Linked DNA regions of Homo sapiens. The protein of the gene in region 1 interacts with the protein of each later gene in a pairwise test. Each region holds a gene or a part of one and is shown in the gene's direction. Other genes may lie near its edges. The genes, in order: PTGS1, PTGIS, ARFGAP3 and PTTG1IP.

What was found.
Region 2: the proteins of PTGS1 (region 1) and PTGIS come close enough for resonance energy transfer, tested with the Homo sapiens proteins (one study listed by BioGRID).
Region 3: the proteins of PTGS1 (region 1) and ARFGAP3 interact in binary tests that used the Homo sapiens proteins (3 or more experiments, as listed by UniProt).
Region 4: the proteins of PTGS1 (region 1) and PTTG1IP interact in binary tests that used the Homo sapiens proteins (3 or more experiments, as listed by UniProt).

The regions. Positions count from the first base shown.
Region 1 is NC_000009.12:122,366,096-122,374,031, forward strand, and holds the start of PTGS1 (prostaglandin G/H synthase 1 isoform 1 precursor), read left to right. Parts: upstream 1-4,928; 5' UTR 4,929-4,989; coding exon 4,990-4,996; intron 4,997-5,090; coding exon 5,091-5,177; intron 5,178-5,517; exon of another isoform or gene 5,518-5,720; coding exon of another isoform or gene 5,721-5,739; intron 5,740-7,936. UniProt on the Homo sapiens protein: Dual cyclooxygenase and peroxidase that plays an important role in the biosynthesis pathway of prostanoids, a class of C20 oxylipins mainly derived from arachidonate ((5Z,8Z,11Z,14Z)-eicosatetraenoate, AA, C20:4(n-6)), with a particular role in the inflammatory response.
Region 2 is NC_000020.11:49,565,120-49,572,504, reverse strand, and holds the start of PTGIS (prostacyclin synthase), read left to right. Parts: upstream 1-4,367; 5' UTR 4,368-4,388; coding exon 4,389-4,462; intron 4,463-7,385. UniProt on the Homo sapiens protein: Catalyzes the biosynthesis and metabolism of eicosanoids. Catalyzes the isomerization of prostaglandin H2 to prostacyclin (= prostaglandin I2), a potent mediator of vasodilation and inhibitor of platelet aggregation.
Region 3 is NC_000022.11:42,847,263-42,854,282, reverse strand, and holds part of ARFGAP3 (ADP-ribosylation factor GTPase-activating protein 3), read left to right. Parts: intron 1-6,650; coding exon 6,651-6,769; intron 6,770-7,020.
Region 4 is NC_000021.9:44,870,676-44,877,790, reverse strand, and holds the start of PTTG1IP (pituitary tumor-transforming gene 1 protein-interacting protein isoform 1 precursor), read left to right. Parts: upstream 1-4,100; 5' UTR 4,101-4,174; coding exon 4,175-4,289; intron 4,290-7,115. UniProt on the Homo sapiens protein: May facilitate PTTG1 nuclear translocation.

The DNA.
Region 1 (7,936 bases):
GTGAGAGGACTTGTATTTTACAGCCCCATAAACTTCCTGAGCAACGTCCCCTAGCCAGAGAATGGCTCTTTCCCCTGGTTTGTCCGTCACAGGTGGCTGAGTCCCCTGATCCCAGGAGCTGATGTCTGAGGCTCTGCGGATTACACTGATGGTGGGGGCTGGCTGGGGAGGATGCCATGGTGTGACCACTCAGCCATCCTGTGCCAAGCAGATGGTGCTGGCTGTCTAGTGGAGAGGTCTGCGGGACAGGGCACCTGCAGTGGAAACTCCCCAGATGAACTTGGGGACTCTCCACTTAGAGTCTCCTGCTTGTTTATCTTCTTGGCCCATTCCTGGCAGGATTTGGGTGTTTGTTTAAGGATTCAGGGTTTGAGATCCAAGATAACCAGCGATGAGCGTAATAGGGAGTTACACTTGTAAATGTTGAAATCATACAGGCCATGGCTCAAATCCCAGCTCTACCACCCATATATAGCCTGTGGTATAGGCTATAGCAAGTCAGTTAATTTTCCTGTTTATAAAAATGGAGACAAGAGGAACATCTACCTCATGGGGCTGTTAGGAGTTATAAAGGGGATGATGCACCAAAAATCTTTAGCATAATGTCTGCCACATGGTAAGTGCCCCAGAAGTGGTTAAAACTCCTCCCACTTTTCTTCCTCTCTGCATAATCTACGGACATCTTTGAGCCTCATTTTCCTCTTTGCACAATGGGGATCATGATACCTTCTTCTTCCAGCAATTGTGAGGGTTTCCATGAGAAAGGGATGTAAACGCATTTGGTAGGCCGGGTGTGGTAGCTCATGCCTGTAATCCCAGCACTTTGGGAGGCCAGTGTGGGAGGATCACTTGAGCCCAGGAGTTCAAGACCAGCCTGGGCTACATAGTGAGACCCCCGTCTCTACAAAAAAACAAATAAAACAAAATTAGCTGGGCATAGTGATATGCACCCGGTAGTTCCAGCTACTCAGGAGGCTGCGGTAGGAGGATCACCTGAGCCCAGGAGATCAAGGCTGAAGTGAGCCAAGTTCGCACCACTGCAGTCCAGCCTGGGCAACAGAGTGAGACCCTGACAAAAAATAACCAAAACCAAAACCAAAACATTATTTTGTGACTCTCAGTTCTCAGCTTCTCAGCTGAACTATGTTGCTTAAATTGGATCCCACACATCGCTCCACAAGCCGACTACCACCCTAGCGAGCCTTTCTGTTTCCTTTTAACTTCAAACACTCGTTGGTTATGCTGGGGCTTGGGTACAGGTACCCGGTATTCCAGAACAAAAGGGTTGGGCCTTGAAACCTGACTCTTACTGGTTGTGCATCTTGGACAAGCTGCTTCAACACTGGGCCTCACTTTCTTTCTCTGTAAATGGAAGTGATGATACTGACTTTATAAGGTTGTTGAGAAAAATCACATGTAACAGTGCATTTAAAACACATAGCATTCTACCCTGCACATAGTAGATATTCAAGAAATATTAGCCATTATTATTATTACCTCCAATGGTCAACCCTAGCCTGGTTCTGAGTAGGTAAAGAGGAGGAGGAAGGGAATTTTTCATGCAACCCTCTTGCTCAGGTAGGGAGTAGAAGCGAGGGCCAATAAAGAACTAGCATTGAGCTCCTACTGAATGCTGGGGATGCTCACAGGGACTATCTTACTTCATCCTCACAACAACTCTTGCAAGAGTGGCATTATTAACCACGTTTTTACAGGTGGGGGAACTGAGGTCCACAAAGGGCAGTTTGCTGCTTAAGGTCACACTGAGAGGTCAGGTGGGGTGGAGGACTGGGATTTGAAGAGATATTGGATTGAGTCCAGAGCCTTCCTGCCTGACTGAGAAGCTGCCTACACAGGTGGGGCCGGGTGGGGCTGGGTCCATGAGTGATTCAGGTAAGAGTCAGCTCTGGTTTTCCAAATAGTGGGTGGGGCCCAGCAGGAGTGAGACCTCTCCAGGAGCATTACAATCCAGGCTGTAGCTAGGGTGAGCAGGAGGGCACGTGATTGGTGTGGATAATGGGGAGGGGGCTATGCAGAGAGAAATCCTATCCCTTGTTACCAGTGGGGTATAGGGAAGGAGGTCCTTGCTGCCTTAGCTGGGAAGGGCTCAGGGCCTGGGGTGAAGCTGGGCCTGTGGGACAGCTGGGGGTGCTGGCCCATGGGACAAGCTGGAGAAGGCAGGGAAACTGAGGCAGGCAGTGATACTTTTGGTGGCCGTCACAGCAGATGGGTGGTTGGCAGTCACTTCGATGAGGCTGGTGCTGGACCTGGTCTGTTTTTTTAATGCATTCACTACTCTTTTAGATACTCATTCATTTCTTTGTTCAAGCAACAAACATTCCCTGGATGTCTTTTATCCGCCAGATCCTATGCTTGGCCTTGGGGCTACAAGAGTGACCAGGACTCTTATAGCCTCATAATGTTTGGGGGCAGAGGGACAATGTGATCAGGAGTGGCACTGCTGTGGCCAGGGAAGGCACAGGGGCTTCCTAGAGGAGAGAAGGGGGAGGAGGAGGCATGTTAGAGGAGGCCTACCAGGGGACATGGGAGGTGGACTTGCCCTATAAGTGGAAGCTCACAATCTTGAGGACTAGGATGGTGACACCAGTCCTAGGCATTTAGACTATAGCTTTGCAGTAGGGAGCAGGAAAAGGTGGCCCTGTGCTGTGGTCTCTTTCCCAGGGCTGGGGCAAGGGCTACCCCAGACCTCTCCCCTGTGTATCCAGCTGCATGCTGGGGCGGTTGGGGGTGCTGGCCCATGGGCCAAGCTGGAGAAGGCAGGGAAGGTTTGATCCTCCTCATTCCTTGAAGTGGATCAAATACAAGAAGCCCAAATTCAAATTCCACCTACCCATGCCAGCTCCCCTTCCCTGGATATTACCACCAGCATTGAGCCAGAAGGCTAGGTGTCCTCAGCACCTTTCTTCCCCTAAGCTCTAGTGCTAATCGGTCACCAAGCCCTGGCACTTCTGCCACCATTTCTCTCATCTACCTTCTCCCCACTCCATGCTCTTGGTCCTGCCTCATCCCTGGAGGGCTGCCTCGGCACCCTGCCTGCTCTCTCAGACTCCATCCTCTCCTGTATTGCAGCTGTGTTGAGATCTGTGGTGCTGGTCACAGAGCCTGGCTGCAGTGAGGGCTCAATTGCTCCATGCTGGAACTGGACCAGTCCTCAGAGACCATCTGATCTGCTCATTCTGTTGTTCAAATGGGGAAACAGAGGCCCAGTGAGGCCTAGCGGCTTGTTTAAGGTCACGCTATGGAAGAAGTGACTTGAACTCACTTCTGATTCTGAGGTGAAGGCTCTTCCCATCAGTGCCAGGGCCACACAAGTGTTTCTTGTTTTGAGTGCAGATGGGTGGCTTGGAAGTCAGCAGGAGGCACAGGTGTGGTGACTTGATGGGCTCAGGGCCCAAAGGGAGGGAGGGCCTGGGAGTGGAAGATGGAACCTCATTCAAGCCCGTCTCTCCTTTCTTCTCACCAGAAACTCCCCCTTTCTTTGGACAACTGGACCCCCACACCTCCACCCTGTCCCCATCCCTTTTGCTGATAATCCCATCTCCTTGCCCTGTAAATGCTAGGGGGCCCTTGATTTGGGGAGGAAGGGAAGGCTGAAGCCGGTCCCGGCACCCTGAGAGCCCCAGGGCCCTCCAATGCCCCACTCCTTCTCCAGGTCTGCCCTGGCTTGCTCTGTCTCCCTAGGGCAGCTGGCTTTTGTCCCAGGGGAGCATGGGAACAGCTTGGGTGAGAATGGGGGAGGGGCTTCCCAGCAGGTTTCACCTCTCCCACCTGGCATAATTTCTACCCTGCACCCAGTGATGCCCAGGAGCCAGCACAAGAACCTCTGAGCTCTCCTGCCGGCTTTCCCCACTGTGGGGCCCACAGGATGGCTGGGTGTGCTGGGGAAACTGAGGGAGATGACTTGTGGGTGCCAGCACCATGGGACTTTGGGTGATCTTGGACCTATTCCTTCCTCCTTCTAGGTGCTTCCTGAGCTGGCGAAAAGGAGAGCTGGATGCTGGGATTCTATAAATTCGGCGGTGGATGTGAGTCTAGCTACAGCATGGACCCTGGCCAGCCCTGGAATCTGAGTTCAGAGATCTTTGAAAAAATGCCTTCCGATAACTGAGCACCTACTACATGCTGGACACTGCACCAGGAGATTTGTGTGCATTCCCTCATTGAATCTTACAACCACCCTCTGGGATGGTTTTTGCTATTAAGCCGATTTTATAGATGAGAATACTGAGGGCTAGAAAAGATAAGTACCTTGTCCAAGGTGACACGGCCAGTAAGCTGTGGAGTCTGGATTTGAACTAGGCTCTCTTGGAGTTTGGAGCCCGGTCTTTTCATTTCTGGCAGAGACCTGTGGCTTCAGGGGGCGGAGCCCAGCCCATGGGGGAAGTAAGTCCTTCCTGTTAGATCTGTCTGAGGAGTAGTGAGTTTCTCATCTAGGAAACCATCAGCAGGCCAGGCTGGACTGCCCCATTTCTAGCCCCCTTTCTTCTCTGCAGACTGCCCTGTTTCTAGCCCCTTTTCTTCTCTACCCTTTTCTGTAGAGTGCGTTAGACCCATTTTACAGAAGGGGACTCTGAGACCCTTTCTTCTCTGCGGGGCAGGGTATGTGGTTCAGACGAGCCGCTTCCATCCCCAGTTCTGTCCCTAAGCCCTGGGTGACCTCAGCATTGAGCATCGTCTCTGAGCCTCAGTTTCCTGTCTATATCTAGTGCCACCAGGCATCAGAAACGTAAGTGCTTCAAGGATCTTGGGTGAAAAGCCGCTTTAGCGGCGAGCATACACTAATTAATAAAATGCCTTGGCCGGGGCTGGGCAGAGGAAGTAAGCGGGCAGCCGAGGTGACAGCTGGAGGGAGGAGCGGGGGTGGAGCCGGGGGAAGGGTGGGGAGGGGATGGGCTGGAGCTCCGGGCAGTGTGCGAGGCGCACGCACAGGAGCCTGCACTCTGCGTCCCGCACCCCAGCAGCCGCGCCATGAGCCGTGAGTGCGACCCCGGTGCCCGGTGGGGAATTTTCTTGGCCTCCTGGTGGAGCCTTGAATGCCAGGCTCAGCCCCTCATCTCTCTCCTCTGCAGGGAGTCTCTTGCTCTGGTTCTTGCTGTTCCTGCTCCTGCTCCCGCCGCTCCCCGTCCTGCTCGCGGACCCAGGGGCGCCCACGCCAGGTAGGCGGCCCCATCCCTCCCCAAGGGAATCCCCGGTCTTGCGCCCCTGGCCTGGTTTCAACCCCCTCCTTTCCCCTCCAGCGGGCCCAGCTTCCCCTTTCTGCTCGCGGTGCTGAGAAAGACTGAGGCTGAGTCTTTTGGTGGGATGGGGGCTCCCTGAAGCCCCCCCGGCGGTGTGGCCTTGGCTAATGGGCTATCTAGTTCTTTCAGGGGAAACAGCAGACTGGGATCTGGTGCCAACTTGGGGAGAAGGGACAGTCCCTATCCATCCCCCTCACCTGTTCTGGGCCCCAGATGTCTAAGCAGCCTCTGCACCCAACAACCCCGCTGTTTCCTATAGGGGCCTCTTTGGGAGGAAGCCGCAGGCACCAAGGGAAATGAGTTCCCTTTCTCCAGCCTCTAACCGTCTGGGAACCCATCCTGATTCCCATTGCCAGTGGAGAAGGTCTCCCCTGGTGAAGACTTCGGGAGAACATGGGAGATGGAAATACATTTAGGAGCCGGGATGCTTCATCTGGGGTTTAAGAGATCCCCATTGAGCAAATGAGGAAACCGAGGCTCAGTAGGTGCCATGATTCCCCAAGCTCACAAAATACATGGTGGGCCCAGGATCTGAACTCAGGTCTGTCTGCGTCCACACACTTCGCAAGGTCTTTCCACAGAAAGCTGCTTCTACCCACAATGGACCCGGAGCCACTCTGGGTTTCATGGGGGAGGTTGATGGGGAAATTCCGCCCTTCCCTCCCCCATGCATGTGCCAGGTTCCAGGTGAAGGAATTCAGCTCCTCGCTCAGCCAACCTTCCTCCCCCAGCTCGCTGCTTGTGTGTGTGCGTGTGTGTGAGCATGTGTCCCAGTTGGATATAGTTTCCTCCACCACCTAGCTGTGTAAAATCTCTAAAATGAGGCCCAGAGAGGGCAGGAGGGAGCAGAGGGAGTCCGCACTTTCTGCTGTGATGCTCTAAGGATCTGGTGCGTGGGGGAAAGAGGAAAGATATGTACATGGATTTTGGATCAGACCAAGTTTCCTGAAACGGGCTTTGGGTGGGTGGCATTTAGGGGACCCAAAGAGAGGACGGAGGGTGCTCTAGGAAAGGGATTGCGTTGAATAAAAGTCTGGTTTATGGGAAGAGGAGGAGGAAGACTCATGTGGCCAGCACTTTAAAGTTTACAAAGGTTGGTTGTGGACATCCACCTCTTTGGTGCTCTCAACAGCCCTGCCAGAGAGATGCGTTAGACCCAGTCTACAGAAGGGGACTCTGAGGCCCAGAGGGAGTGAAGCCACTTGTCTGAATCCTCACAGTGAGCTGGTGGTGGGGAGTAGAAGGGGCTCTTCAGGTTGCCTCGCTGACCCATCTTGTCAGTCCCTGGATCAGCCCAGCACTTCCTCTGAGGCCCCATCTGGCCTCATCCAGGCACTCTTGGTATACAGGTCCCACCCGTCTGTATTCTTTTTTAGTCCATTCACTAATGCACAATGAGCCATGGTCTGTGCTATTTTGTTTTTTGCCTTTTCTGTTTCCTTTTGTATAATAAATGTTTACACGGAATTGTTTTTTTTTATCCCCAAGGGTTATTTATGCCAGTCTTTGGCTGGGGCCTGGAGACACGGAGCTGGGAGGAGCTGACAGGCTGATGGTGGAGCCAGAAATGCCAACAGACTGTCATCCAAGGGGACCAGGGCTGTGCGGAGCTCATGGGAGGAAGCAGGGGTATAGGGAGCCCAGGGAAGGGAGCAGGGGTGTGCGGAGCTCAGGGGAGGGAGCAGCTGCCTCTCAGTGCGAAGAATTGAGGGAGGCTTCTTGGATCTGATGACTTTTGGACTGGACCTCGAAGGAGGTGGCGGGTGGGGGAAACACTAAGAGACTCGACCAGGAAACACCGTAAGGGTAATGTGGAGCAGGAGGCTGAGGTTGGATGCGTAATGTGGGGATGAGACTGGAGGCCAGAAAACTGGTACCGAGGCTCCTGCAAGGATCTAGGAAAGAACGAATGACTGGTGGAGTGCAGGGGCAGAAGGTCTGGGTTGCCCTCATATTTCCAAGTCTGCGAGTAAACTGAGGGCCAAGCTACTTGGGCATCTGCCCCAGGAAGCCAAAGCCTGTCTTTTACCTCTAGAGGCAAAGGAGATGAAGAGATGAGGGCTGCACTCACCTAAGAGGGCAGGCGGAGGGAGAGAATGCTGCTTTTGCCTCTCTGGTGGGTGAGGAGATGGAGGCCAGCCTGGAGGCAAGGCTGTGCCGGGGGCGCCCTGAATGCTCAAGTACTTCCCCTCTAGTCTCTGGACTTGACTCAGTGCCCATCTTCTAGATGGGGATAGGGCATGACCTGGCAACCAGAGCTGCATGCCAGGCAGAGGAGCCCCAGGCCAGCTGACCCGGGCACATGGGGCAAGATGCCAGCTGTGCCAAGGCTGCCCGGGTGCCTGCACCTGCTCTCGCCAGCACCAGTTGGGTCTGTGGGCCGGGAGAGGGCTTCCCCACCAGCAGGCTCTTCCAGCTGCTGGGCCCAGTTGTCTGGATCTGGTGTGGTGGTGCTTAGGTGTGGGGACTGGGGCCCAGGCCAAACCAGTCAGGGTTCCCCACCTTTTTTTTTTTTCTCTCTGGCTGCCAGGTCCCCAGAGACTCTCTAAATATTACTCTTTAGGGGATTTGGGTCCTGCCTCTTCACTGGGCAATCTTGCAGCCTGACACCTCTGCATCCTGGAGGACTTGGTGTTCCCTGGCTGTGCCTGTCCCCTAGTCACGCTCAGTCCTGGACC
Region 2 (7,385 bases), on another chromosome or scaffold:
CTTCTTTCCTCTGTCCCTTCCTTCCATTTGTCCTCCTTTCTGTCCCTTTCTCCCAGCCCTCTCTGGCTCCCTCTTCATTTTACTCCCTGGCACTCCCTCAATAAGCCTTTAGTATATCTCATCTCATCTTGGCTCTCCTGGAGAACCTGCTCCTAACCGATTTGGAAAAATCAAAAGGTAGAGAAAGAGAGGGCTTCCAGGCAGGTAAACAGCATGAGCAAAGGTGTGGAGGTGGGAAGGCCCAGGGTGTGTTTGCAGCACCAGGGAGTAAGTTAGCTTGTCCTAAGAAGCCATCAAATTCCCATGCTCTAGCTTATCAAAGGAAGTACTACGTGACCTTGGGTGAAGTGACTCTTTCTGGACCTTGATTTCACCATCTGTGAATTCGGAATAATTTTACTACCCATTTTATAGGTTCTTTGTGGGGAATAAATAAATTATTATGAAAAAGTGTTTCAGATGGCTTCAGTTACTAACTAAAGTTAGAACTATTGTTACAAAAAAATATTTAAAACTGCCCCTCTCTGTTGAGACTGGTTTTTAGCCTTGAAGAAGGCAATACACATAATATTTTCCTTTCCGGACACAGTTTATTTGTAGCCTTTAGGATGCAGACATGAATCAGACCTGATCCTTGGAAGAGAGAAAGCAGGGGTGTAGGGTAGAAGGGCTCCCTTTCCCAGGCAAAATTCCCTGTGTTCTAATTGGGTTGGGTCTTGACATTACTCTCACAACCCCACAGTGGCCACAGAAGAGAGCAGAGGCTTGGTGAGATGGGAGAGTTGCCTAGATGTCTTGTTTCTACTGGACAGTGAACATCTGAACACACTGAGGCTCCTACAGGGAAATGTCTGGATGTTCGTCCCTGGGAGAATAAATTTTCCCGGGGGTCCAGTTTCCCTTCCCCAGAGGAGCTTCCCTTCCCCAGAGGAGGGCTTAGATGGCACACTTGGAAGCTCTCTCGGTGGCTCCCTGCTATCACCACTACCAGCAACATGCCCATTGCACAAGTAAAGTAGTTGAGGCTCACAGATTAAGCGACTTGCTTAGGTTTATATGGAAAGCAAAACTTGCTTTTCAAATCCTTGCGTATTCCAGCCCTTTTGCCATGGGCTAGAGGGGTCTTCCTTGGGATGGTCTTCCCTCATCTTTATTCTGAGGCCATATCAGCTCTGTCCTCAGCAGGGTCCTTTGAGTCCTCCCGGGGCAGGGGAATTCGGAATTTCTGCTATTTTCAAGGCCTGCCTGTTCCTCCAAGATGCCATAGCCAGAGGGTTGGATGTCCTGTCAGCCTGATAAACATAGAAAGCTTACACAGTAAGCAAAGTAAAAATAATAAAACAAAGCAACACTTTTGAATTCTCGCATGGGCCAGTCCTGCAGAGGTGCTCCGGATGCATCATTGCCTCATTTGGTCCTCCCTTCAGCCATATCTAGAAGGCGTCTCAGTTGGGAATGTCTTTGGCTGCAAGTATTAGAAAAATCTGACTCATGGTGTCCTAGCACAGACGTGTGGTTAGCTCATTAAATGAGAAATCTATAGGCAGGTGGTTCCAGGGATGGTGATTCCGCAGCTCTGGTTTGGGGCTCTGCAGTTTTCTTGGCCTTCCCTCATAACACTACAGCCCCCCTCAGCTCCCCCACTAATCACATTCCCACACGATTGCCCCCAAAGCAGAAGAGAAGGCAAATAGGAAGGAAACACATTTTTCTAGAAGCCCGCAACAGATATCTGGAAGGTGCCCACCTCAGGACAAATCACTAGCAAAGGTGGATTTCCTGGACCAGCTCAGACCCATGGTGGGTCATTCTCTGGGAAGGGGGCCTGGCCACCTTCCTAAACATATGCCGACTCCTGAACAAATCCAGGAAGAACCAGAGGCTCACATTCATCTCCCTTTGGTGTGTGAGCAGCTGCCTCTCCTTCCCTGGGAGGATTTTGTCTATGGGTCGAGAAGGGAAGAGAGTATCTGGAAGAGATATTTGTATTGAGGTGATATTGGTCTGCACTGAAGCCAGGGGTGGGGAGTAGAAGAACTAATATTTATTGAGTACCTATTGTATACCAGACCCTGTGCTGGGTGATTTCATTCTCTTTTCATTTAATTCAGTTCTCAAAGCAGCCCCATGAGGAAGGAACTGTTCTTCCCATTTTTCAGATGGGAAAATTGAGACCAAGCCTGATCACAGATAATGGAGAGGAGCGGAACTGGTATAAGCGCTAATTGCGGTTAACTTTCCCTGATGCTCATGGTGTGACAGGCACTCACATAGGTGTGCCCCATGGACCAGGTCGTTTGTTCCTGACCTCAACTCCATGAGGTTCTCTTTTCCCCATTCTGTCAATGAGGAACCTCAGCTTAGGGAGGTGGAGCAGTCTGCTTGGGGTCACAAAGCTGAGGATCGGCCAAGCCCAGCTGTGAACCCCACTGCTAGCAGACAGCCCTTTGGAGCTCCCCAAATTTGGAGAAAATCCTCTGGACCCGTTCTATGGCCTTCTTGGGATTGTTGGCTTCTCTGGCAGATAAGCTGGAAAAATAAACAAGAGGATCAGAAAACTCCTTTTGCCTCCTGCTGTTCTGAATCTGCTGAGGCCACAAGGGGGTCATCCAGCTGCCTCGACAGCCAACATTAAGCAGGCAAATGAATGAATCTTGAGTATGATAGCAGGACATGTGAAGTACTGCCAGAAAAAAAAACTATCAAAAAAACAAAGAAACAAAAATCAGTAAGAGGAGATGACTGTTTTAGACCAGGTGGCCAAAGACAGCTTCTCTGCAGTGACAGCTGAGCAGAGATAGAGGCACCGGGGAGGTGGTGGAAAGAGCAGGCTGTGCGAAGAATGCTCCGAACAGAGGGAACAGCACGTGCAAAGGCCCTGCAGTGGGACCTCTAGGGAAAGATGGGGAGATCAGTGTGGCTGGAGCAGAGTGGGTGAGGGAGAGAGTCGGGGGCATAGGGTCAGGCAGGTAAAGGTGAGAAGGGGCGGATCATGCTGGTTCTCGAAGGGCCTTGTCAGGACCCTGGCTGATAAGGATGGAAGCCAGGAGACCAGGAGGAGCAACAGCTTCTCCAGAGCTCTGCTGGGACTATGGAATGAAACGTGCCTAAGCTCACCCGGCACTGAATGGGTGGATACAGGACTAGAACAAGACCTCCTGGGTCTTACCTCCAGGTTCAGCCCATGGTTTCATAAAACTTAGTGTGCCAAGCACTCAACAGTTTGTGATTCCTTTTAGTGTCAAGCTCTCATCACTTCCTCACAACAGCCCCAGAGGTAAGCACAACTCTGCCCTCCCTGTTTCCAGATAATGAGGTGAGCTCAGAGAGGTTGAGCTACCTGCCCAACGCTTCCCAGGGTGGGAATGGGGATGGTGGGGGCAGGGGCGTGGAGTGAGGCTGGATTGACCCCCAGTTCTCATCAGCACCCTGGGGTGGTACATTGCAGAGCCGCGGGCACAGGGGGCTGGCACCCCAAGCACCAGGTAGCGATGACAATGGCCACCACATCCGGAGGCCCTAACGTGCACCAGGTAGAGGGTGCATACTTCACGGGCACTATCTGTCCCCAAAGCAGGTGAGGATGAGGGGACTCCCTGAGACACCCTTGTACCCCCTGCCCAGTAGTTACTGAAGATACTATAGGGTGCGATATAATCCAGACCAGCCCTCCCAGCCCAGACCACAGAATGGAAAACTCCAGGTCCCCAGCACGCCTGGGGTGGGGGATGGGGTGAGGAGGAGCCTTGGGGGGTTTCCTCTGTCTAGGTGGAATGTGGAATGTGGTGGGAAAGCTCCTCCTGACCCCCTTACACTCCTCCTCCATGTTCGTCCCCTCCCACCACATTTTCTCCTCCCACTGTGCCCCCTCCTCCCCATACCTCCTTGGCTGTTTCCCCATCGTCCCGCCGTCTTCCCACATTCCCTCCTCTTCCCTTCCCCAAAAGTCCTCTCCCATCTTCCCCATCCCTCTTCCCTCCCCGCATATAATCTCTTCCTTCCTGTAAATCCTCTCCCTCTCCCCTCCCTTCCATCACCCCCCAGTCCACCACATCCCCCTCAGTCCCCCATCTATCTCCTTTCCCCTTGATCACTCCCCAGCCCACCACATCCCTTCCGCCCCCTCCCCCTCCCCCTCCTTCTCCCCTCCCCTCCCTCCCACATTTTCCATCAGGCCTGAGCTGGGGGGAGCAGGGTTTCTAACAGAGCGCCCCGGTCCGACCCCTGCGGACCTCGGAGGGCCCCATCCCCCACCCCCCCCACCCCGCCCCAAAGCGGGCTGGGGTGGGCGGAGTGGGAGGGGCGCGCCGGGTGGGGGCGGGGAACTTTACCTGGGAGTGGGCCAGGCCGCCAGCCCCGCCAGCCCCGCCAGCCCCGCCAGCCCCGCGATGGCTTGGGCCGCGCTCCTCGGCCTCCTGGCCGCACTGTTGCTGCTGCTGCTACTGAGCCGCCGCCGCACGCGGTGAGTGTCCTGCTCCGCTCGGCCCCGCCAGACAAAGGGGGCGGCTCCCGCCCGGGCTGCAGCCCAAGGGTCTCGGAGCCCGCGGCCGGCCCGGCCCGAGTCCCGCTCCAGTATCCCGGGCAAGGCGAGACCCTCGGAGGTGGGAGTCCCGGGGCCCCGCACGTGGGTGAGGGGGCCAGGCCGTGCTCCCCCTGCCAAGAAGGTGCAAGGTGGGAAGGTGCGGGGTCCGGTAGGTCCCCCGGGGCGAATCGCCCACCGCGACAAGTCCGAGTCTGGCCCTTAGCGCGACGGCAGGGACCTAGGAGGGGGTTTCAGGTGAGGACCGAGGGTTTGTGGGTGGGGAGCCGTGCGGGGACAGCCTCTGCGTGGCCCGGGTGGAAGAAGCGCTCTCCACTCTCCAGCCTCTGCCTGCACCTGGCACCCACCTACGCGCTGTCAAACCCTGCCTTGCTTTCGGCAGTCCTATAGGGATAGCCTCGCTCCTCAACCCATTACACAGATGGGAGTGTTGAGCCAGCGGAGTGTAGAGCCCCTGGGGGATGTCTTGATCATGCCCTGGAACCACCCACCCCGGGATTCCCCGTCTGGAAGACGGGGGTCGGTGGGCTTAGTAATTTCATTTGCCAGGGAGAAACTGAGGCCTATGAAGTCTCTACCTTCCCCTGAGGTCCCACAGCCTGGACAGAACGGAGCCAGGGTCAGATGTCACAGCCTCCTGGTCCCAAAGGTTTTCCAGCTCCATTGAGCATCTGTGATTTAGGAGAAAAAGTAAAGACAGCCTCAAATCAAGGAGATAGCTGTAGCTCTCCTTTTCATAAAATATTTTTTAAGTTAACTTGAATTGCATAAGGAATAGCTGAATACATTCGACTTAACACAAATATTTATCCTGTTATAGGTAAGACCGAAGCCCCTTAACCCTCCCCCAGCCCCTGAAGTCTAGTCCTCTCTCCCTCTCTGGGCCTCTCCTGTTGCTGAGTCTGGGTAGAACCTTCCATATTTAAAAAAATATACTTTTTATTTGAGACTAGTTTGGGATTTACAGAAAGTTGCAAAGATAGTACAAAAAGTTCCTGTATTTCTCTCACCCCGTTTTCCCTATTGTTAACATCTTACATTGTTATGGGACATTTGTCGCCACTAAAAACCAACACTGGTCCGTTACTCTTAACTAAACTTCAAACTTCACGGGATTTTATCCAGTTTCCCATTACTGTCCTCTTTTGTTCCAGGATCCGGCCCCAAGTTACCACATTGCCTTTAGTTTTCATACCTCCTCAGTCTCCCAGATGTTTTAAAAATTACTCTTACATAAAAATTACTCTTACATACATAGACATGAGCTTGTAGCTAATACAGAGCCACGTAAGAGAGAGTTAGTTTACATTCGTGTCTGAAAATTCCGGAAACCTTGGGAACTTTTTGATTTTTAAACAATATGGTAGTTGAATTTTCAAACAATAAGCTCACTGTATTTTTCTTCAACCTCCAGACATCTTTTCAGCTGAAATTTACAACTGTGTAGTCAATCATTTGCCTTAAAACAAGAAAAGAAAAAGACAGTGAATAAATGTCTCAGGGAAGAAATGAATTATTTTTCCTGTCAGGCTTTCTCAATACACTGTATAGAAATGTTTTCAGACATTATGTTGCTTGCTCTTTTCACTCCAGATTTTAGTTTTGACATCTGTTCTTTTTGCTACAAGCAGATCTTTTTGCTACAAGGAGATCGAATCCATTCTTTTGATCCTCTCTGGAGTCTTCCATCATGTGAATACGTTATGGGCTCTTTTTTTGTTTGTTTGTTTGTTTGAGATGGATCTTCCCTCTTGTTGCCCAGGCTGGAGTGCAATGGCACGATCTCGGCTCACCGCAACCTCTGCCTCCTGGGTTCAAGTGATTCTCCTGCCTCAGCCTCCCCAGTAGCTGGGATTACAGGCATGTGCCACCATGCCCAGCTAATTTTTGTATTTTTAGTAGAGACAGGATTTCTCCATGTTGGCCAGGCTGGTCTCGAACTCCTGACCTCAGGTGATCTGCCTGCCTCGGCCTCCCAAGGTGCTGAGATTACAGGCGTGAGTCACCGCGCCCTGCTGAGCCTTTGATTTTTATACCTGTGGGCACCTTGGAAGGGTCAACAGTGGGTAGTGGGGAGAAGTGTGGGAATGAGGGTCACTGGCAGCTTGAGGGTAGGTGCATGGACCCTGGGGACCCCAGTTTAGATCCCCAATCTCACTTTCTCCTTCCAGTTCAGCTAGGGACACTCTGGTTATCTCCATTTTACAGAGGAGGAAACAGGCTCAGAAAGGCTAAGCAACTTGCTCAAGGTCTGTCTGGATTAAAACTCTGGGCTGTAAGAATTTTTAGCTTTTACTTTTAGTGATAGGATCTCACACTGTGGCCCAGGCTGGAGTGCAGTGTACAATTATAGCTTACTGGAGCCTTGAACTCCTGGGCTCAGGTGATCCTCTCATCTTAGCCTCCTGAGTAGGTGGGACTACAGGTGTGTGCCACCATGCCCAGTTAATTTTAAAAATTTTGTAGAGATGGCATCTTGCCATGTTGTCCAGGATGGTCTCAAACTCAGCTCAAGCGATCCTCCCACCGCAGCCTCCCAAAGTGCTGGAATTACCGGTGTGAACCACCACGCCTGGCTTTGCAAGAATTTTTAATTCACAGGAAGAATGAATTCTCAGTCTTCCCACACATTATACTGGTAATCTGAACACTCAAAAGTCTTAGAACCATGTGACTTTTAGATACTAAGAAATGCAACTACAAGCAAAAAATTCTTAAAGAAGGACAATGGCCGGGAGGGCGGATCACGAGGTCAGGAGATCGAGACCATTCTGGCTAACACGGTGAAACCTCATCGCTACTAAAAAAAAAAAAAATACAAAAAAAATTAGCCGGGCGTGGTGGC
Region 3 (7,020 bases), on another chromosome or scaffold:
ATATAGATTGGGTTATTCATTCAACAAGTATTCATTAAGCACCTATGCTATGCTGGGCACTGTGTAGAGCATGAAAGGTATGTACACTGATGGTATGTTCCTGTCCTCAGGGAACTTATAGTCTAGTGGACAGATGAAGGGCAGATGCAGGACGGCAGGTGGTATGTTTTCTGCTCTGAAGCACAGTGTGGTGGAGCGGGAAGAGTGGCTCTGGGAACAGACTGCATGGGATCCAGTCCCCATTGTGGGCATTTCCACTAAGGAATTACTAAGCAGTGGCCACTTCTTATCTGTCATACTTAATTCAGTAATTCCTTAGTTTTCTTTAAAATGGAGATCAAGATTTACCGCCACCATCCCACGCCCGGAAGGGCTCCTCATGCTCTCTGCAGCATGGTGCTTCTGTCGCTTACAGAACAACTTGCCTTTGATGATTTTCAAGAGAGTTGTGCTGTGAGGTGGCAAAAGTATCCAGGCAGCAGGATGCCAGTGCCTCAAGGAAAAAATGGTCCTTTTCGGCAATGTGTTCGGTACTGGGGGCTTGGCCCTTGTGTATTACCGCATACAAAAGACTTTTTCCAGGGCTTTGTATTACCAGTTGGCATTGGAGCAGGTGCATAGCCATCCCAAGGCACAGGGAGCTCTGGGCCCTCTTCTCAACATTCACTGTCTCAAACTCACCAAGCACAACTTTGTGGACATTGCTGATGCCAAGTTGAAGATTCCTAGCTCTGGATCCAAGTCAGAGGGCCATCTCCATGTCAGCTCATCCAGAAGTGCCCCTTTCAGAGGTGGCACCTTGATGAGGTCTTCCTAGAGCCCAAGGATGGCCAGCAGATTCCCTTGTTCAAGCTCAGTGGGGAGAATGGTGAAGAAGTGAAAAAGGAGTAGAAACGATCCAAAAGACCCAGCTTTCTTCTAGTCTGGCCTTCCCTTATCTCCACCATGTGCCCACCAGGGGTGATGGCCCATCTGAGTGACAGACACTCCCGTAAGCTAATTTTCCAGCCACCAGTGGAATGATTGTATGTGCTGGCATATGGTAATTTTGGTATAATTCTAACTTGGGCACAACGAATGCTATTGTCATTTTTAAACTGAATCAGAAAGAAACTCTTATTATAAGATAATTTATGTGAAAGTTCTTTGTTTAAGAAAGCACATGATAAAAGGAATCAGAATTAAGAAAACATTCATTGATTTAAAAAACAAATAAATAGGCCGGGCGCGGTGGCTCACGCCTGTAACCCCAGTACCTTGGGAGGCTGAGGCGGGTGGATCACCTGAGGTCAGGAGTTCAAGACCAGCCTGGCCAACATGATGAAGCCCCGTCTCTACAAAAATACAAAAATTAGCTGGGCATGATGGCGAGTGCCTGTAATCTCAGCTGTTCGGGAGGCTGAGGCAGGAGAATCGCTTGAATCCAGGAAGCAGAGGTTGCAGTGAACCAAGGTCACGCCACTGCACTCCAGCCTGGGCAACAGAGAGCGACTCCATCTCACACGCACACACAAATAAAATAAAATTAAATAAATAAAATGGAGATCAAGACTAGCTACATAATTTGTGAAATGTACAAAATGAAAATGCAGGGCCCTTGTTTGAACAGTATTAAGAATTTCGGCCAGACACAGTGGCTCACACCTGTAATCCTAGCACTTTGGGAGGCCAAGGTGGGTGGATCATCTGAGCTCAGGAGTTCGAGACCAGCCTGGGCAACATGGTGAAACCCCATCTCTACTAAAAATACAAAAAATTAGCCAGGCGTGGTGCCATGTGCCTGTAATCCCAACTACTCGGGAGGCTGAGACAGGAGAGTTGCTTGAACCCAGGAGGCGGAGGTTGCAGTGAACCAAGATCACGCCATTGCACTCAAGAGTGGGCGACAGAGCGAGACCCTATCTCAAAAAAAAAGAATTTCAAGATGAGGCTAGGCGCGGTGGCGCCTGTAATCCCAGCACTTTGGGAGGCCGAGGCAGATGAATAGCTTGAGCTCAGGAGTTTGACACCAGCCTGGGCAACATGGTGAAACCTCATCTCTACCAAAAAAAAAAATTAAAATTAGCCATGCATGGTGGCTCATGCCTGTGGTCCCAGCTGCTCGGGAGGCTGAGGTGGGAGGATTGCTTGAGCTCGGGAGGCAGAGGTTGAAGTGAGTCGAGATCATATCATATACTCCAGCATGAGACCCTATCTCAAAAAAAAAAAAAAAGAATTTCAAGATGAGACAGCAGAGCATTAAGCCAATCACACACTCTTTTATTCTAAGTGTGGGGCCCTCTGCGACTGCATAGATCACACACATGCCCAGGAAGCTGGCCCTGATGGGGATGATCATAGTACCTTCTACTAGTACCCTACTAATGAAAGCGTTGTTAGGAAGATGAAATTGGCTAAAGTGCCAACAATAGTGCCTGAATTAAACACTCAATATTAGCTGTTATTATTATTTGTATACTAATTATTCTCATCATTAAACAAAACAAATTGTCAGTCAAAAGCTATTTCTTGCTCATCACCATAAGAACTGATGTTCTGCTTTAAAAGCCACATCTTGACTTTGGTTTGGGATTGCATATCAAATCAAAGCGCAGTCCCTGCTTCCAAAGCATAGCCTCCTGGTATAGCAGGAGGATCAAGGCAGCATTTATGGGAGCCAGACCTGTATTTCTCACCACTTCTGACCTCCACACGTCCCAGTCTCCACTTGTTAGCTCCTCTACCCCTATAAACTGCTCCACCATGTGCATTCGCATTTAGTGAGCACCTGTGTTGTGCCAGGCATGGTGCCAAGCTCAGGTGAATAAGGTAGACATGGCCCCCCCCTCATGGGGCTACATTTTAGCAATCCCTTAGCTTAGGTGATGGGTCCGGAGGATGCCAAAGCTGCCTGCCTCATTAGGAACCTCACTGCTCTCTTCTTGTAGCCAGTCTGGTGACCACCTCAGAAGTGATTCTCAAACTTGGCCTGCTCTGGGCTGTGTACCCAAAATCTCTGCCATCACCTCTACCAAAAACCCTTTGCATCCTGTCCTTGCTTACTAGGAAACAATCTTGTAACTAATTGTCTTGCCCACTGGACTGCTAGACTGTGGGCTCCATGTGGGCAGACTTCCTGAACCACGCTGGTATGTCCACTTGGTATGTGCCAGGTACACTTGATGGTAAGTGCACAGCAACTGGTAGTTGAGTAACTAGGTGAGAAATTACACACAGCCTGACGGGGAAGAACAGCACCTTTTGGCAGAGTCTGTCGTTTTGTTTGATGCCCCACAGAAGAGGGTTCTCCTAATGGCCATCACCACAGGGCGTTTGAATTTGCGCGTCTGTCTTCCCCACTTCTCAGTGAGCTCTTTAAAGACTAGCACCAATAAGCGTTCAGCTAGTGTTTGTGCTGCTACTTTTTCATACCTCATCACCTGTCACATGTCTGACATACAGCAGGTGATCAGTAAACACCAAAGTAAATCTCCTGGCCTCTTTTTGTGTCAGTTGTCACTCCACCCCGATTATTCAGTGTGCGATCAGTGTGAGCATATTGTGGTGAGGGGCTTTAGAAAACCCACTCGTGTTTCCTCTCTTGTATTGCCCTTGTATTGCCCTGAAAAGACCAGAAGCCAGATCTTGCTTGATAATGATAGGTTGGACAACCTTCACATAAGTGATTCTGCCTATAAAGTATATCTTTTTTTTTTTTTTTTTTTTTTTTTTGATAGCAGGGTCTCACTGTTGCTGAGGCTGGAGTGCAGTGGAGTGGTCTCCGCTCATTGCATCCTCCGCCTCCCAGGCTCAAGCGATCCTCTCACCTCAAACTCCTGAGTAGCTGAGACTACAGGCACGTTCCACCACGCCGGCTAATTTTTTTAATTTTTTGGTAGAGATAGGGTTTCGCCATGTTGCCCAGGCTGGTCTCAAACTCTTGAGCTCAAGCGATCTACCTGCCTTGGCCTCCCAAAGTGCTAGGATTACAGGTGTGAGCCACTGCACCCAGCCTATATATCTAATATGTATTTTTTTTTCCTGCAAAAAGATTAAAAACACCTCTATTAGAGGAATTTTTTCCCTATTCGGAGTTTAATGAGTTATAAATACTACTTTCCACAACAAGCACTGTGTATTTTATGGGCCCAGCACACTTCCGACGCGTGACTCTGCTAGTTAGCACTGTGTATTTTAAAGTACTTTTATGCTCCTGTTGGGCTTCAGTGTCAGTGTTGAAGGGGCTAGTAATTTTTGAGCTGGCAATACGTTTTTAAAGTTATTCTTTTGAGTAACAAATATTTACTGAATGCTTACCATGGGTAAGCCTATTTTTCAGGCTGTGTGTGAGATTTAAAAGTACACAACTATTCAGCAAACACTTATTGTGCGTTTACCATGTGCAGGTTCTGTGCTAGTGGACAGGAAAGTAAGGTGACAGGAGCCGGACGTGGTGGCTCACACCTGTAATCCTAGCATTTTGGGAGGCCGAGAGGGCCCAAATTGCTTGAGCCCAGGCGTTCAAGACCAGCTTAGGCAACATAGCAAGACCCCCATCTCTACAAAAGAAAAAAAAAAATCTGGGCACGGTGGCATACACTTGTCCTAACTGCTTAGGAGGCTGAGGGGGGTGGATGGCTCGAGCTCAAGAGTTCGAGACTGCAGTGAGCTAGGACCGTGCCACTGCACTCCAACCTAGGTGACAGAGCCAGACCTTGTCTCTTTAAAAAAAAAAAAAAAAAAGCCATAAAGCAGCGAGCTAGGACCGTGCCACTGCACTCCAGCCTAGGTGAGAGCCAGACCTTGTCTCCTTAAAAAAAAAAGAAAAAAAGCCATAAAGATTAGCAAAAGGGAAAGATTCTACCCCTGTAAGAGCTCTCAGTGCCCTCAGTGGGCAGGGAACGTAGTCCTCGGTTATGAACCTGCATCTAAGAGTTATCAAAGTGACCTGGACAGAGTGAGGCAGTGGAGGTAGAGAAGGGCACAGCATTTCATAAAGGAATATCTCTCTGTATTAGTCATCTATTGCTGTGTATCAGATCACCCCCAACTTGGCATCATAAAACAACAGATAGTTCTGAGGGTCAGGAATTTGGGGGTGACTTAGCTGGCTGCTTCTGACCCAGGGTCTTTCATGAGGCTGCAGTCAAGCTGTTGGCCCAGGGCTGAGGTCATCTGGGAGCTTACTCACATGGTGGTTGGCAGGCCTCCTCTCCTCGCTGGCAGTTGGACTGGGGGCCTCAACTCCTCAGCACTTCACCCTCTCCACAGGGCAACCTGAGTGTCCTCAAGACATGGCACCTGGCTTCCCCTAGAGCTAGTGATCCAAGGTGGGGAGGGAGAGAGGGGGAGAGAGAAAAAGAGAGTGGGGGAGACAGGAAAAGGCCATAGTGTCATTTGTAACCCAATCTCAAAAATGACATGGTCATTTCTGCCATATACACATAGACACACAGATCACCTTGGTAAAGTGAGGGTGGTGGAGATTACACGGGATGCAAATACCAGGAGGTGGGTTTCACTGGGGCCATCTTGGAGTCTGGCTGCCACAACCTCTTCCTCTGGCTGGGGAGAGAAGCAATATGCTCAACAGCCTGCCATCTGGTATAGCCACTGCCAGGAAGGATGGTAGGGCTGGAGTGTTTCTAGGCAGGGCTGCTTCCCTCACTAGCATTCCTTTACATGACTGGTAGGATCCCTGCTGATGCTTCAAGGATAAGGCATGTTTGAGATGGTACACAAACCTAAATTCTCTTCACTATGTATAGTGTGCATTGTTAAAATATATACATGATAGCCCGGGCGCGGTGGCTCACGCCTGTAATCCCAGCACTTTGGGAGTCCAAGGCGGGTGGATCACGAGGTCAGGAGATCGAGACTATCCTGGCTAACACGGTGAAACCCCATCTCTACTAAATATACAAAAAATTAGCCGGGTGCGGTGGCGGGCGCCTGTAGTCCCAGCTACTCAGGAGGCTGAGGCAGGAGAATGGCATGAACCTGGGAGGCGGAGCTTGCAGTGAGACGAAATCGTGCCGCTGCACTCCAGCCTGGGCGACAGAGCGAGACTCCGTCTCAAAAATAAATAGATAAATATATATATAACATAATCTGTAATATACTGTATAAATCATGTAGTAAACTGGGCACAGTGGCTCGTGCCTGTAATCCCAACACTATGGGAGGCCGAGGCTGCCAGATCACCTGAGGTCAGGAATTCGAGACCAGCCTGTCCAACATGGTAAAACCCCATCTCTACTAAAAGTACTAAATTAGTTGGGTATAGTGGTGTGAGCCTGTAGTCCCAGCTACTCCGGAGGCTGAGGCAGGAGAATCAATGGAACCTGGAAAGCAGAGGTTACAGTGAGCCGAGATTGCACCATTGCACTCCAGCCTGGGTGACAGAGCGAAACTCTGTCTCAGAATAAAAAAATACATAATATAGTAATTAACTATACTAATTTATAATTAATATAATTATATATAATAATAAAAGAGCATGAAATTTGAGGCTTTTAAAAAAACCTAGGTGAGATATTTTCTAATAATACAATCCCAAAGTTTACATTGTAAAGGTTAAACAGTTTTCAAGCTAAGTCATTTACTGTATCTTACAGGATAATTTATTTGGCTAACATAAATTAGTAACTGAATTTAACATTTTTTTTCAGGTGTGTTTTGATTGTGGTGCCAAAAATCCCAGCTGGGCAAGCATAACCTATGGAGTGTTCCTTTGCATTGATTGCTCAGGGTCCCACCGGTCACTTGGTGTTCACTTGAGTTTTATTCGGTAAGTGAATCTTCTCTCATTGGGGTGAGATTGATTACATTGTTACATGGGTGTTTTTTTCCCTTTTTTCTTTTCTTTTTTTGAGACAGTGTCTTGCCTTGTCGCCTGTCACCTTGGCTGCAGGAGTGCCATCATAGCTCACTGGGCTCAAGTGAACTCAGCCTCTACAAAAAATAAAAAATGTTGTGGTGTGATGATGTATAACTCTAGTCCTAGTTACTCAGGAGGCTGAAGTGGGAGGATCACTTAAG
Region 4 (7,115 bases), on another chromosome or scaffold:
CTCTAAAGTCCTGGCATGTCCTGTTTTTAGAGAGCGTATAAGGACTGAGCTTTAAAGAAAAGTTTGGGATCCAATTTCTATAATATCCTGCCAGTCCTCCACATCCTTTTGTTTCTTGGTTGTTGGTGGTGGAAAGCTAAAATTCCTTTCAGTCTATCTAGATTAGTAGAAAGTCTTTCTTTAGATATTAAGTGGCCCAAGTACTTTGTTTTTTATAAAATTGAGGTTTTTCTTTAGGAATTTTATGTCCCTTTAGGGCTGTTGTAATGAATGTATCCCATCTTCTATAAAAGCTTTGCTTATCTTCTGAGCAAAGGAGTAAACTGCCCATGTATTGTAATAAAAAATTTTTTTTAAGAACAAGTCAAAAGACTGGGCCCAGTGCCTCGCGCCTGTAATTCCAACACTCTGGGAGGTTGCAGTGGGCGGATCACCTGGGGTTCAGAGTTTGAGACCAGCCTGACCAACATGGAGAAACTCCATCTCTACTAAAAATACGAAATTAGCCAGGCATGGTGGCGCATGCCTGTAATCTCAGCTACTCGGGAGACTGAGGTGGGAGAATTGCTTGAACCCGGGAGGCAGAGGTTGCAGTGAGCCGAGGTAGCGCCATTGCACTCCAGCCTGGACAACAAGAGCGAAACTCCGTCAAAAAAAAAAAAAAAAGAACAAGTCAGTATGTAAGACAACTGTCTTTGCATCAGTTGGACTCTCAGTGTAGCCCTGAGCATGGCTGTCTGTGTGTATTGTCTGCCTTCCCAAGTAAAGGTAAAGAGAAATCAACACTTTCACACACAGAACTACTGAAGGATGTGCTAATAAGTCCACTACACTAAAGGACTTTGATCGGGGTAGCCAAGAGGATTCTTCCAGTATCAGTGGAAGACTCTGACCATATTTGATCAAGTACTGCCTTTAGTAGGTTTTGTAATTCTTCATTATTCAATAATTCAGTGTCTTCTAGGGCAATTAGGGATCGCAATTGGGTTAGATTTTGAAACTTTTTTTATGTCTAGTAACTCAGCTTTCTCATCTAATTCTAAATACGTCTTCCCCCTTTGGGAGAAAGAAACGTGGATATTGTAATTCTAAGAAGTCTCCTTTTATAAGATGGCTGGCAGCTGATAGAACCAGAAGGAAAATGTGAGTCCCTTGTAAAGGACCTAGTTGAAAAGCTATAGGCTGAGATTTACGTGCCGTTACAGGCGTATTAGTGACACCTACCCTTTGAACTTTTTTTTGACTCCAAGGAATGGAACCTTGTAACAAGATGGGATTTATTACAGAAAACACGGCTGCTCTATCAGCAAAAGCTTATGTCAGCAATGGGAACTCGTGTTAACTATTTTAAATAATTTTTATGGCCAGGCGTGGTGGCTCACGCCTGTAATCCCAGCACTTTGGGAGGCTGAGGCAGGTGGATCACAAGGTCAGGAGTTCAAGACCAACCTGGCCAATATGGTGAAACCCCATTTCTACTAAAAATACAAAAATTAGCCGGGCGTGGTGGTGCGTGCCTGTGGTCTCAGCTGCTCGGGAGGCTGAGGCAGAGGAGTCGCTTGAACCTGGGAGGCGGAGGTTGCAGTGAGCCAAGATTGAGCCATTGCACTCCAGCCTGCGCAACAGAGCGAGACTCCGTCTCAAAAAAAAAAAAATTATTTTTCCCAAAGTAGAGGCAGGGTCACACACTCGGGTATTTAAATTCTCTGGGAAAACCAGTGGGGTCCTGGTGAGCATCAGGAAATTCCTTGATTATACTTTTAAGTTCTACCTTTGACCATAACTCATGAACTAGGGCACATAGTTGTCCCCTATGAGAGACACTGGCTGTTTGAGCAATGGCCCCAAAACAGGAGGAGGAGGAGGAAGAAAGGTGGGTCTGGGCGAGGTAATTCAGACAACAAAGGATAAAGAGAAGGAGCTGAGGGAGGAGGGGGAGAAATTTCAGTAGTCTTTTTTAAATTCAGAAATTATTTTAGATAATTTTTGTTTTTCTCTCATAAATACCTTTATTAGAACTTCTTTTGGATGCTTCCAACTACCATAAAAAATAACTCTCCCAAAGATTCCGTTTTATCCTAGAGCCAGCGTTTTCCAATTGAGCAAACAAGTAAATTACCTTGGTGTTCCAATGGTACCCGGCTTTGGTCACTGAAATGTTTTTTCTCAAGTTACGTGAGACCATTTTTCTAAATATAACGAGAGGTGGCACCATAAGCACTGCACAGGAAACCAGCTGGAGTTTCCAAAGATGGGTCCTCCCTGAAGGAGAAAGACTTGTTTTGGATGGACGATTGCCTATGAGTTCTCTTAAGTGACAAAAGACTGTAAGGGAAAATCTGGTTACTCAAGAAGAAAGTTTAGACATGTCAAATTGAACTCAGCTCCAGAGCCTGGCCAGTTTTAAGGATTACAAATTTTGCTTAAGCCACGATTCGCTGCTTCTTTTCAAAGAGAAACTGCTTTCCCCTTCTCCAAATCTGAAGGACAAAAAAGGTTGCAAACTTTAGCAAGACGAACAAAACCTTAACCTCGAAGGATAGTGTTAACCACACACCTGCAAACAGCTGACTCTTTGGAGAAATAACAAACGAAACTCTTGCCTTAAAACCAAGCCTCAACTCCAGCCCTATCAGGTGTGGACCTGGGTAGGCGGAACAGAGTCTGAACCTCAGCCCTGGGAGGCTGCCAGAGACCCCGGCCAGGTTCCCAGGCGGTCCGGTGAACCAAGGCCGCTCCGCGGGTGCCAGCGCTCCGAGTGCCAGAGAAGTGGCTCGGATCACAAGAGGCTGGCTTCGGAGCCATCTGCAGGCGCCCAAATCCCAACCTAAAATCACCACAGGGTCAGAATCTAATGTAAGGGGGGGTTATTCAAAGGCAGTTGGAGGCTGGCCCACCCGGAAACACCGGCTCCAGAGGAATGGAGTCCGCCCTCGGAAGCGGGGAGGGGAAGGGTGCCCTCGGGCAGGCAGAGGCGGAGGCTTTTAGCAGGACCGCGGCGTCCTTCCTACGAGGTGGGCGCAGTCCTCGCGTTTGATGGACGACGGGCAGTGCCTGCTTCAGGGAAGGGTGCGGCAGTCACGGTTTCCCGTCTTCTGGTCTAAGCAGTGCAGAAAACAGGGAAGTTCATCTACAAGGGTCATGAACTAAGAAGGCAGGAGGTTTCTGTCCCCGGCACCGGCGAATCCCGGACCCGAGAAAGGAGCTACGGGCGCACAGAAGCGGGCGGCCCCGGCTCTCGCGGGGCTTAAAGCGCGCAGTGTGTTCGGGTTCACACCTCTAAATGTATTTTTGCCATTTCTTAAGTAGCCTTAAAAATGTCCGTCACTATTTAGTCCTTTTATCAACCGAGGGGCCCGGAAGGCCGCAGCGAGGGCGTCGGCGAGAAGCCATGGAGGAGAAACGGCGCTTCTCTCGGGAGTTTAGGTGGCAGCTTCAGCAGCACACGTTTCAGCCCATTCTGGGGCCGTTTCTAGTGTGGTTAACGTACAAAAATAAACAAATCCCCTAAAAGTCCCACGCGGACATCGGCGGGAGCCCAGGGCCGGACGCCGCGGTGTGGAGCGAGGGCGCCGGCGCGGACTATGAGGGCCCACCGCGCCTCGTCCAGGGCTCACTTAAGAGCAGCGTGAGCAGCGCTTGGGACCGCCGTCCGGGACGCCCGCAGCCCTTTAGGATGGAGGCCACCGTGACCTCCGCCACCGAAGCACCGCGCTCCCCTAGTCCCCTCAGCCGGTCGCCGTTCCCCGCCGCGCAGGCGCAGGAGCCGCGGCGAGCCCCTCGGTCACGCCTCGCCCCTCGGTCACGCCTCGCCCCTCGGTCACGCCTCGCCCCTCGGTCACGCCTCGCCCCTCGGTCACGCCTCGCCCCTCGGTCACGCCTCGCCCATCCGCGCCGCGCAGGCGCACTGAGCCTCAGCCGCTCTCCTCGCTACCAGGCTCCTTTCCTCTATCGCGCAGGCGCACTGAACCTCAGCCGCGCCGGGAGGCGAGCCCGTTGGCGAGGGGCGGGGCAGATGGCGAGGGAGCGGGGCGAGCTGCTTTTTGAGGCTGCGCACTCGCATGGCCCCACCTCGCAGGTCCACTTCCGGCGCCGCGGCTGTTCCGGGCGGAGACCGCTTGTGCTGGAGTCGGAGTTGTAACGCTCCACTGACTGATAGAGCGACCGGCCGACCATGGCGCCCGGAGTGGCCCGCGGGCCGACGCCGTACTGGAGGTTGCGCCTCGGTGGCGCCGCGCTGCTCCTGCTGCTCATCCCGGTGGCCGCCGCGCAGGAGCCTCCCGGAGCTGGTGAGGGCGCCGGGGCGGGCGGGGCCGCGAAGGGGGCGGGGCGGCTGGTGGGTCCAGGTCGGGGTCGGGGTCGGGGTTTCGGCCAGGGCGCTGGGCTCGGCGGGCGGCCTGGGCCCACGGTCGCAGGCAGCGCCCCGACGGAGGCTCCTCGAGGGTCACGCCCGTTTGGCGGCCGCGGGAGCTGCCGTCGCGGCTGGGGCGCGGGCAGGGGAAGAGCCGTCTTTGTCTTTGTCTTTGTTTTGTCCAGTCGCTGCGGCCGCTCCTCGCGCGTGGCCTCGGGTTGGCCCTCGCCCGGCAGGCGGGACGCTTGGCACCTGCGGCCTCCCTTAGCCTCACTGCGACCCCAAACAGCACTCCTCGGGTTCGATCCCGAGCCGGGAAGCCGGCTCACGACGTGTTCGAGGTCGCACAGCTGGTCGGGGGCAGGCCGGGATGGCGGCCGCAGGCCCCTGCAGGGTGATGGGGCCGCGGCCGGTGTGTCTCTACAGCCGCCGGCGTTCACGCCGCCACTCCCTCCCGGCCGCAGTTCCACGCACAGCAGCGAACGCTCGCACTTATGCCTTAGAAAGGAAGGCGTCCCCAAAGCCAGGCTGTAGCATCTGATTTTGAAGCAAGCTGATTGCGGTTCTACGCTGTCCAGACGCGCAGGTGGCATTCTTCATCGTTTATCCCGTCTGCACCAGGCCCTGCGGCCACAGTGGTGACCGACAGCCAGAGCTCCTATCCAAGAGGAGCTGAGTCCCCGGGAGGCTGACCAAGAAAGAAGCAGTGAGGGCGCGGGGGCTGGGGGAGGAAAGTGCATGACAGGAGACTCAGAGTTCCAGAAACCGGCAGTGTTTATAGAGGGTGGCTTCCTGTGGGGCTGGGCCTCCAGGGCCTGGTGGGCTGCGGGAAAATCCAGCAGGTTCTAAGCTGGAGAGTGTCATGGTTGGACCTGTTTCACAATGTCATGCTGGCTTCCGTGTGTGGAGTTTCCAGGTGACCACTAGTGGTGGGGAATAGTGCCACCTTAACTTCAGTTTCCTGACCCTTACAATTAGGGTTGACCTGGGCCCAGCTTGAGGGGCTAATACTTTTCTCAGCTCTTGTTAGCCCAGGCTCTGTCAGTGTCTGTTTAGCATAGTAGAGCACCTTTTCTTTTTGTGACCTTATGGAATGTTTATTCCGATGCAGGATTATTTGTGTTTCTTCTTACCTGCCTCCAAGTGTGCTTAGGGTTTGTGACGTTAGCAATGCAGCTGCCTTGAAGTTTGTTAGTCAAGGAGGCCAGTGGGACTGTACTGGGAACTTTTGGCCCAGATTGAGTTCTAAGCGCAAATGTGCAGTGAATACGTTTCCACAAACAGAATGGGCGTCTGCAGGCAGAGTGTGTGATTCACTGGCAACTGTATCAGTGGCTCGGGGGTGTGTTTGCTTGCATTGTGAAAGCGGGAGTGTCAGGAAAACAACCATGAGGTTTTGTTTGACTGTGATTCCTCCTGCTCTGCACTGCTGAAGGGTGCAGAGATGGGTGTGGACGAGTGGAGTGGACAGTGTGGGAATTAATCCGGAACTGCCATTCGGTGTGTCAGCTGAAAAGCCATTCGGTGTGTCTGCACTTGGAGGCTGCACTTGCTTGCTTCCACTTATGGTAATCACCAAGTCCTGGTGGGTGGACTGTTGTTTCTCTCACTGGGGACCCCTTGGAATAGGAAGAATGGTGCCGTGTCATGTTGGCATTCACTGCCCAGGCGCCTTTGGTGTCTGCGTGCCCCTTGTCCTTGGAGAGAGGGGCTATTTATAGCCTGGAGAACTCCCCTCTTCCCACAGAGTACTTGCTTGGTGTGAGATTTTTACTGCTTGTCATGGTTACAGGAATGTGACCGCAGTACTGATGTTTAAAACGTTTTGTCTCCTTTACAAGGACACTGTGTGAATTTAGAGAATACATTATACCAATCCAAATCCAACACTTTTAAGCATCTTTTTATGTGTTTTGATGGAGGAGAGACATTAAGAACCCATGGTGTATTGAAGATCTTTAGAGCAAGATTCTTGAAGTTAAACCTGGATAGGGCTTTTGGACCCCACTTTATTTGTGTATGGGGTCAGACTCAATCCAAGAGCTTCATCTGGAGGAAAGACGACCCCAAAAAGGAGCTCAGACTGCTGTGTGAGGGCTGGCGCAGTGGTGGCCAGTGCAGGTCCCCGAGGTGGTGGGTCCCACTCAGCTGCTCCTTACAGTGGGGACTCCTGATGTGGAGTTCTGCCCCTGTCACCCTGAGAAACGTGGCTTTCTAACTGTACAGAGTGCTACAGTGTACATAGGGTTCACAGTGTTGATACATACTCCTAGTCTTCAACTCTTTCTTTTGAAATAGTGGAGTTTCCAAGAACATTTTTTTGTCTCCATATCTGCCCTCTTTTCTCACCTGGAATTGACAATGTAGTTGTTCTCCATGCCTCTGTCACAGTGCAGAGTGGGCACCATGCCCGTTTGGCTGCTCGTTCTGCTGATGAGCATGGAGACTGCAGCCTGTGGCCTGCGGTGTGACAGGAGCATGACAAGGAAATACGTACACTTGCTGGTGTGTTCCTTTGTCCTTAGTGTGTTTATTGACTCACCTGAAACTTCAGGAAAGCACTCAAATGGGTCATGGAGGGTTGGTGTATCCTGACAGAAGAAAACGTTATTTGTTGTTGTTGTTTTTTCCTTTAATTTCGGAAACAAATGAGACTGAAAGGTCTTTAAAAATTGATAAATGGAGTCTAAGTTGAAGCCTTGCAGTCATAGGACCCAGAAGTCAGGGCAGTCACATTCAGTGTTAGACTTAAGCAACACAAGGG